Regions from separate parts of the Homo sapiens genome. Here region 1 is linked to region 2. The links come from fine-mapping of genetic effects on gene expression. A gene starts in region 2. The other region holds a variant in brackets. All regions are shown on one strand. Distances are between the middles of the regions.

Evidence for each region. PIP is the estimated chance that this variant, and not a neighbour inherited with it, causes the effect. A credible set is the group of variants that fine-mapping cannot tell apart.
Region 1: its variant is the best candidate, but not a certain one, in a credible set for the expression of NIN in whole blood (INTERVAL, PIP 0.84).

Annotation. Positions count from the first base shown.
Region 1 is chr14:50,793,864-50,798,133 of GRCh38, reverse strand. The region is part of intron 4 of NIN (ninein); the gene reads left to right. Among named protein-coding and RNA genes, the nearest start is that of NIN, 35 kb to the left of the region's middle. The variant G/A (reference allele first, on the strand shown) is at 2,290.
Region 2 is chr14:50,828,879-50,833,148 of GRCh38, reverse strand. NIN (ninein) reads left to right here and starts at 1,987. Exons shown (of 31, transcript NM_020921.4): 1 at 1,987-2,143; 2 at 2,632-2,685. RefSeq lists silencers at 1,646-2,095, 2,146-2,425, 2,496-2,545, 2,566-2,685 and an enhancer at 3,256-3,305.

The sequences.
Region 1 (4,270 bases), 35 kb after region 2:
CTTGCTGGTGATGGCCCTAGAGGCAGGGAGTGCACTGGGAAGCAAAAGGAAAGGCAGATCATGTCAGAAAGCTTCTGCTGATGCCTTTTTAATGTTTAACCTTTCTTGGCCTCCCCTTCTCCCTTCCCATCCTTGAGACGTTCCCCTCCCAACTCCCTTCTTTCCTCCACCCCAGCTCATCTCTCCCCTCCTCCTCCTCAGTCTCCCACTCCACTCTTTCCCTTCCTGGTGGTCTTCCCACATCTATATCTCTTGCTCCCCTTCCCCACCCCTCCATAGGCCTCTAGGTCCCTATTATCTCCTGTTTCCCCACCCACTTCTTTCCCTCTCTTGGTCTCAGTCTCTGTCTCATTCTCTCTCCATATCTGTCTCTCTGTGTCAGTTTCCACTGGTCTCTGTCTGTATTTTTCTTGGTCTTAGTGTTCCTTTGGATTTTCTTCCCTTCTCTTATTTAGAATCAGGCGTGGGTTTGCATTTTCACTGTGTAATCCCTGTGTGATGGTGCATTCAGCATAGGCGAGGAGGTGGGATGTAGAATGGGGCAGGGTGGGGCTCATTTGCTGCATGACTGCCTTTTCCCAAGAAAGCTTCTTGGGGATGCTGGCCTTGAGGTTTGCACATGCTTCATTTTTTACCTTTCCTTTTCAAACGGATTTCAGCATTCCTGTGAGCTCAGCAGCAATGTAACATGAAGGGCCTCCTGTGCTGAGGTTCTTTGGATGGGGGTGGTGTCTCTGGGAATGATTTCCCAGGCTCACTAAATGAGTCAGGAAGGGACATAGAAAGCAAAGTCCTATGCGAGCAATTCCAAAATGAGAATACCAGCACCCTAACGACAGGGTTTTCTTCTTCATCCTTGGAAATGGCCTCAGGTCATTTTTGGGAACAGGGAATTTTTTGATTCAAAAAACAAGTTAAAATATCCATCTTCTTCCTCAATAGGTACAACGTAATGTTTTGCCTATGGCAGGTGTTTGGTAAATACGCTTATGTGTTAAATGAATCTGCCTAACACTGGGGAGCATCTTTGAAAAATCTCCTTTAACTTCCAGGAAGCAGCTATGGCTGCCACTCCATTCCAGGTCCTGAGCTTATGTTTTTGCAAAGAAAGCATTCAATTGAATATATAGTGTTCAGGCTTTTGCATAATGATTTTAGCTTCCCTTAGGTCCTCATTGCTTTGGCTTTGGCTGTTCATGCAGTGGTTTTAGGAGAGCTGAGCATTTTAAGCAGTGACCTGTATCACATCTGATGCAGATGTGGTGATCTGGTGCAGTGGTCAGTTTTAGGGGAGAGCTTTAAAAAGTGTACTCTGTATTGCTTGAAACCTGGAGTAGGGGAGGCTGTGTTTCTCCCCTCCACACTGCTGCTGGGAAAGGAACTGGGAGAGGAATGAGGCGGGTGTTTGTTATTTCCCCTGGCTGCAGCTGGCTTATCTACTCTGAGTGGTCATTCTCCCTGACACCATATTTTAACTTTCTTTTTATTATGAGTGCAAGACCTCTGGTCAAGCATCATACATGTGCATGGTGGTTTATCCTGATTTGGAAGGGGAACATTATCGAAGCTCTGGAGTTTCTCTTCTTGGGACAGATGAGATGTGAAATAACAAATGTGGCGTGTGAGCAACCCAGCTGTCATTTCTAAGGCCCGAAGGCATAGTATTTTCTTCATCTTTTTAACTCTCGAATCAGATGTTTTCCCCACGTGCTCTGTAGAGACTGTCACTCACTTCCACATTACTCCAGTGGAGGGTTGAAGCAAGGTTTCTCTACTGTCCCCTGCTCATAACCAAGCATTTGGCTTATGGAATAAAACCTAGATCATTAAACTAGGTCAGGTTGGACTGCCTCAAAGCCACCTTCCTCTGATTGGTGTGTCTCATAATAAGCTTTCCAGGGATGGGGTCTGAGACACCTCCAGGCAAGCTGGGCTTGTCTGCTTTCCTTTGAAGCCCACTTTAATTTTTGTAGTGATGCCAAATAGGAGAAATGGAAAATGGGAAAGAAGGAAAAATGACTCAGAAGCTTAACAATCCAGGGAGAATCATAAATACACTTTCAAGGAACTCAAACACTGAAACACTGAAAGCATGGCAGTCATTTATACTTTGTTTTGATAGCATTTCTTTTTGTTTTGTTTCGTTTCTGTTTTTGAGATGGAGTCTTGCCCTGTTGCCCAGGCTGGAGTGCAGTGGCGCAGTCTCGGCTCACTGCAGCCTCTGCCTCCTAGGTTCAACCGATTCTCCTGCCTCAGCCTCCCAAGTTTCTGGGACTACAGTCACGAGCC[G/A]CCACGCCTGGCTAATTTTTGTATTTAATAGAGTCCAGGTTTCGCCATATTGGCCAGGCATTTCATGTCCCTTCTTGGAGCTGGTGATTGGAGCAGATACTCTCACCTGTGGAAGCTCTGTGATGTCAATAATTTCGTTTCTTAATAAACCAAAAGCCTCCATGTTATCTGACATAGATAAGATTATTCCAGAATGACACCCTGAAAAATAAAGGTTCCATCTGGATGTGCTCAGAAAGTAAATAAACGTAGCCCCAGGGTTGCAGTTTTGGATCTCTTCCATTAGGCATGGTCAGAAAGGGTCAAGGCATTCTTTAACTTGAGTGGGTAAGAGTGTCTTATAATCCCCATGGTTCGGTGGACATCTGCTGTTCAGTTCTAAATCTCTGATTGAGATTGATGAGGAGAATCATAGTGTTTTCAGCGCTTAACCTAGCAAGGGCTGTTGACCGTGAATGTTCTCTCTGAACATCGTTAGCTTTGCTGTCTCTGTTCCCATCGTATCATGTTAAGTGCAATGAGGCGGATGCTCTAAATGGGAGAGGGATGTCTGAGTGTGTCATTCTTAGAGGTGACTATTTTTAAATGGTGTGATTAGTCCACTTCGTTATTGGTCACTTGCATGGTTTGGAAAATAAAGTGATGAGAAAACTTTAACCCATTTTTCTTTGTGTGTGCTAATGTCTTTATTCCAAAAAGGTTACATAGTTTAATAGATGTCTCTAGAAATTGACTTTATCATGTTCGTACGTTCTATGAAGGATATTAACTTAAAGTTTGCTTAAATTGGTTATTATAATAAGATAATGAAATAAACAATTTAATGCCTGGCAATGCAAAAATAAATGAGTAAATAAACCAAAACTCCACAGGGTCCCTGCTGGCTCACAATCTGTTACCTTTTATTGCTTAGAAAAAGAGCTGTTTTGAATCCACCACTGCATCTACCCTATGCACTACGTGGGGTAGTGAGTAGTAAACAACCAGGGAACCATTTCATCCACCGGTAGGTTTGGGATTAGATCACAATGGATTTTTAAAAGATAGTTGTTTTCTCCCACTGCTTTTTTTTTTTTTTTTTTTAACCTCTGAATAAGTGCAGCATGCAATAAGAGCTCCTTCGCCACTTCCATCCCCAGGACACAACTTTGTTCTTATACTGGGAAAATACTGTGGTTCATTATCCAAGGTTCTAAGTGTTCCTTTTAATCTTTTCCAAACCCCTATAGTCACTAATGGTGTATCTTGTTGTCTGCCACCAAAATTTAAGAATATGTAATAAATTAAGGATGGTTCTGCATTGCCTCTTATCTGACTAGCATCTGTGGGTGTCAGCTGCCAACAAGTAGCTCGGGTGTCTGGGCCGCTCCTGAATGGTCACAAGCTGACACACTGTCTTCTGATAAAAGGTACCTTCAAATATGCATGCAATTTTCAGTATAAATTTTGTATGCTTAAACACTTCCTGTAAGAGAATCACTCGACCTAATAAAATGACTTCACTGGGACTTTTTTAAAGCTGGATATAAATATCACTAGAAATTATATAGCTACCATAAATACTTCACTCTGAGCTTTGCTGAGCATGTTCAGAATGTGTCTGGCCACATTTGTGAAGATAGTGAAATCCGAGCTTGTCCCAGAGGGAAGGACATGGCGGGGAGGTGTTTAGTCAAAGAGGGTCGCCAGTCCTCCCTGGGAAACTGTAAAGTAATGGCTAAACCCCAGCATGGTTTCAATGGTGATAAAGGAACGGTCGTTCTTTTAGTTCTTATCTAATCAACTATTGTCGTTTTTATAATACGTGTACATAATCTCATTTAAAAGTCTACATGTCTGAGTTCAGACATACCTTGCTAAGACTCATGTTCAAACAGAATACATATCTGTTCTCGAGAGAGTATGAATATGTGGACAGCAAGACAACAGAAATCAAAGCATTGTCATCTTTTGTACTTTAATGAAACATTTTATTCTGATG
Region 2 (4,270 bases):
ACACCACGCGGTAACCATGCTCCATGCTTTCCCTCCTTTGTAGCAAGGCTGGAGGTGATCCCAGTTCCCAGTCCCAGGGCTAACTCCACCCCACTTACTCCTCTCAAGAAAGCGCATCTTGTGTTTTTCAAATTACACAACCCCCAGCAATTCTGATCTTCCTGCACAGGGAGTGAATGCCACTTCCAATATCCCCTGACCCCCAGGAATCACTGTTTTAAACTAATGATCAATATCATCCTTAAGGATTCTTGCAGGTTAAAAAGCGATGCTTGGAGAGGTAACCAGTAGGATGAGGCTTCCATGGCAGAGATTAGGTGAAACAAGAAAGACACCTCTTCATTCTTACCTTCCAAGACTGTTGGCTGTTTTAGTGCCCAGTGAGCATTATTGTCTGTCTTACAAGATGACCTCTATGTAAGTATTCTGGTAACAGGTTAGCTATCCTCTTAATGAACTGCGTGTGTGTGTGTGTGTGTTGTATCATATTACTGGATGACTGAACAACCATGCATACAGTGTATGAGTGTGTGTTTGTGTGTGTATGTGTACTTATTCAAGACTGTTTAAAAAGGAGAGAGGAGCATAAATCTCTCTTATTCTGCAGGCACGCTTATATACCGTGTTGAAAGAAGAGAGCCTGGGCTTTTGAATAAGACTGAGATGTTTAAAATTTTTAAAAAAATTTTTTGAGGTAACTGTAAATTCGCTTGAAGTTGTAAGGAATAATAGAGAGATTCCCTATAGACGCTTCACTTAATTTTTCTCAATGGTAACATTTTGCATAACTGTAGAACAATATTACAATCAGTAAATGGACATTAGTGTAGTCCAAATGTCTTATTCAAATTTCATGAGTTTCACGTGCTCTCATTTGTGAGTGTATATTCAGTTCTATGCAATTTTGCCACATATGTGATCTGCTTTTGAATCTCAGTTCTGTGGAGTTCCTGCTGTGTGATCCTGAGGAAGCTCTTTGACTTCTGGGAGATCCATTTTCCTCATCTGCAAAATAATGTCTGCCTCCTAAGAGTGATGTGAGAATTAGATAAGATAATTTCTGTCGAGTTTCTAGCGCACTGGATTCTCAAGGAATGCTGGTTTCCTCTTGTCTGTTGCTTGCTTTCTCGGTAGAAAAGGAATCACCAGTTTCCTGCTAAAATAACCAGACTTGTGGGTTGTAATCCATCAGGCGGATCCTTCAAGGGCAACACATTTAACCCTGCAGCTCAAAAAGAACCATGGCCTGGACTTGGGATCCTATTTGACTGCAATGAGATCAGAAGTGTAGGGATGGGGGAGTGAGAACGCAGACTCTGGGGTAGTAGGTAGGAGGCGATTAATATCGAGCAACTGTTGGGCTGGGAACCACCAACTCCAAGGAGTTTTCGTCCTGTGTGGCTTGCGACCGAGGGTTAGCTTCACCCGGAGAAGGCTGCACAGGGGCGGGAGCCTGTGAGGACGTGGTGGGCAGGTGCGGAAGCCAGTGTAGACCCGGCAGGAGGGTCGCGCTCGCTCTACAGGGTTCCGAGTCACTTCTACAGCCCTTCTGCCTCCTGAACACCCTTTCCAATGTTGATGGCCAATCGACACCCGAGGGCTGGGAAATCACCCCCTTAAAGTCCCGCTTGCTGAAGGCGGGGGCCCTTCCTCTGCGCGAAGACGCTGCGGCCCGAGTGTCCGCGGTGCGGGTGAGTGTAGGCGTGTTGGGAAAGAAAGGGAGGCGGACAGGCAAGGGGCGAGGGTGGCAGCGCCAGCCCCAGCTCGGTGGCGACCTCGGGGCGCCAGCCTCCTACACCCGCACCCGGAGCCCCGGCGTTTCTAACTTCAGATCTCGGAGGCGGGCGCTCGGAGCGGGAGGGCGCGTCTGCGAGGGCTCAGGCGGCGCCGCCCGCTCCTCCCTCCGCTGCCTGAGCCGCGCGGGCCGCAGAGGAGGAGCCGCGCCGGGGCCGGCGTCGCCCTGACTCCTCCTCCCCGCGCGGGCCCGGCCCTTCCTCCCCGGCGTCCAGAGCTCCGGGTGGCCGCGGCCGAGCCGGGAGCCGAGCGCGCTGGGCGCGGCCGTCCCGCTGCCGCCGCCAAGCCCGGAGTGCGCCAGCGGCCATGGTTCCCGCGGCGGCGCCGGGCGCCTGAGCCCCGGGACGCAGTAAGTGGCGCAACCCCGGGGACCCGGACCCACGGCCTGGGGGTGCACGGAGGCCTCGCGCTGCCCCCGCGCCGTCGGCGAGGCCCTGAGAGCCCGGAGCGAACTGGGCACCGGATCACTCGGGGGCTTCCCATTTGGGGTCCGGGGCCAGCGGGGCGCAATCCCTGCGGGCCGGGAGGAAGCAGCGGCCGGGCGGGAGGACGAGGCGGGGACGGGGCTGCTTCGGAGGCGGGAGGAGGGGCCGGTCCCGGAGGCGCGGGCTGCGCGGGCGGGGGCGGGCCGGCGGGGGCGGGGAGGATGCGCGCTGCAGCCCGCGGCCCCCGAGAGCCGCGCTTTTGTAAGAGCTGGCCCCTTACATATGGAAATGACGCTCACGCGGGTCCCCATTCGCGTCCTTTTGAAGGACGCCCGCCCGGAACCGCTGCGCCGGCTGCGAAGTATTGTCCCGTTTCTCCAGCCCTAACAAAGCGTCCTCCTTCGCTTTGCAGAGCGCTGGAGGCGGGCTGCCGGCTGTGCGGGCGCTCCGGAGAGACCGACAGAAGGTAGGCGAGGGCGGCGGGGCCGGGGGAGCGCGCTGCCTGCCCACACAATGGGCTGTCTGAGGTTTCTGGTAGTGGCGATGGGCAGGCGAGTTGAGGACGCATCGCAGGTGGCCAGGGACTTGGGAGGCGCGCTTGTCCTGCGGCCGCACCTCCGCTTCCCCGCGCGGCAGCACCGCTGGGTTTGGGCACTTCCAGTACCCCCGACGCCCCGGCCGCCTGCCCGGAGCTGAAAGCCGCTTCTGTGCTTTGACCGAGAGCAGGCTTGAGTCCCCGAGGGAGCAGAAGGGGTGGTGGTTCCGTTGGCATGTGCCGCCCGTACAGCCTTGTGATTGAGACGCTGCAGAGGAAACTGCATGGGGAAATCCGAGGTGTTAGCCTGGGCTGTCTGAGTAGCGGAGAGCTGCTTGGAGCCCGGAAAGTGGAGATTTTTGGAGGTGTGCGGGGTCGATGCGCGTAAACAGTTTCCCAGTATAATGCCCAGGAGAAGGGGAAAGAACAAAATGACATTTGGTTATTGCCTAAAAGGTGTGGCATGGAGGTATGGAGTGTCGGGGAAGGAAGCTTCCAGCGGCTAGGCTTCTGTAGCTACCGAAGCGGCCCCTGACAGAAGGACACTAGGTGATGGGAACAGTCACTGCTTCCAGCTCTCGCTGCGAAGTTAAAAGAGATAGAGACGGAAAGAGGCAATTTCCCTAACCCCAGCCCTGACAACCCGAGGTGAAGGCACCAACAAAATGGGAGCTGGAAAGACTGCCCTACCATATATCATGTTTCCAGACAACTTGGATATTATGAGATCTGCTTTCTGCTCCTAACTAGGACAGATCCTCTCCTGGTGTTGAGGACTTCTAAGATGGGCTTGCCATACAGCTCAACTCCTGAATTTATTACATCGAAACAGATTGCGTAGTTGTCTTTTGTGACTGACATGGTAGCTTTGTAGGATGAGAATCCTGATAAAGTCCATCCTGACACATGAGGGAAGCCCCTGGAACCACGACGTTTCTCAGTTAGGTCCCCGTAAACACCATAACATACACACATGTTTGCATGATTCCGGAGGCTTGATGATCTAACAAGGAAAATTCCTTTTTTCTGTCAGTTTAATTTTACCTTGAGTCTTCTCTCGTGGTGAGCATATTATATAGGTGGCTGACCTGGAATATTGGTGGCTCTTGCTCCGGAGTTGAAGGGAGCTGAGGATTTCCAGAGTGTGTATAGGAGGAACATTACAGGCTGGCTGAAAAACGAGTTTGTGTGTTGTGGTCTCTTCAGCTATTGTCAGTGTCCTTTGGGAGGTGATGTGAACTGCCCGGGAATTTGTTTGCAGATTTGTTTATTTTCCCTGTTCTCTGGTGATTCTTTAGAGGGAAGCATTCTGCAGAGTGGGGAAAAGGTAGGATGAATGTTCCACAGGGTTGGACATCGGCAAAGTTATTACCAATACAGGGAAAGGCTTCACAGGGGGCAATAGAGAGGAAGCCATCATACAGTCTGCATTAAAATGTCAAGGATCAGTCATTTTAATAGGCACTTGCTCAGAATGGCGTGGGGTTCTTTTTTCTTATTTCTTTTTCATTTTAGA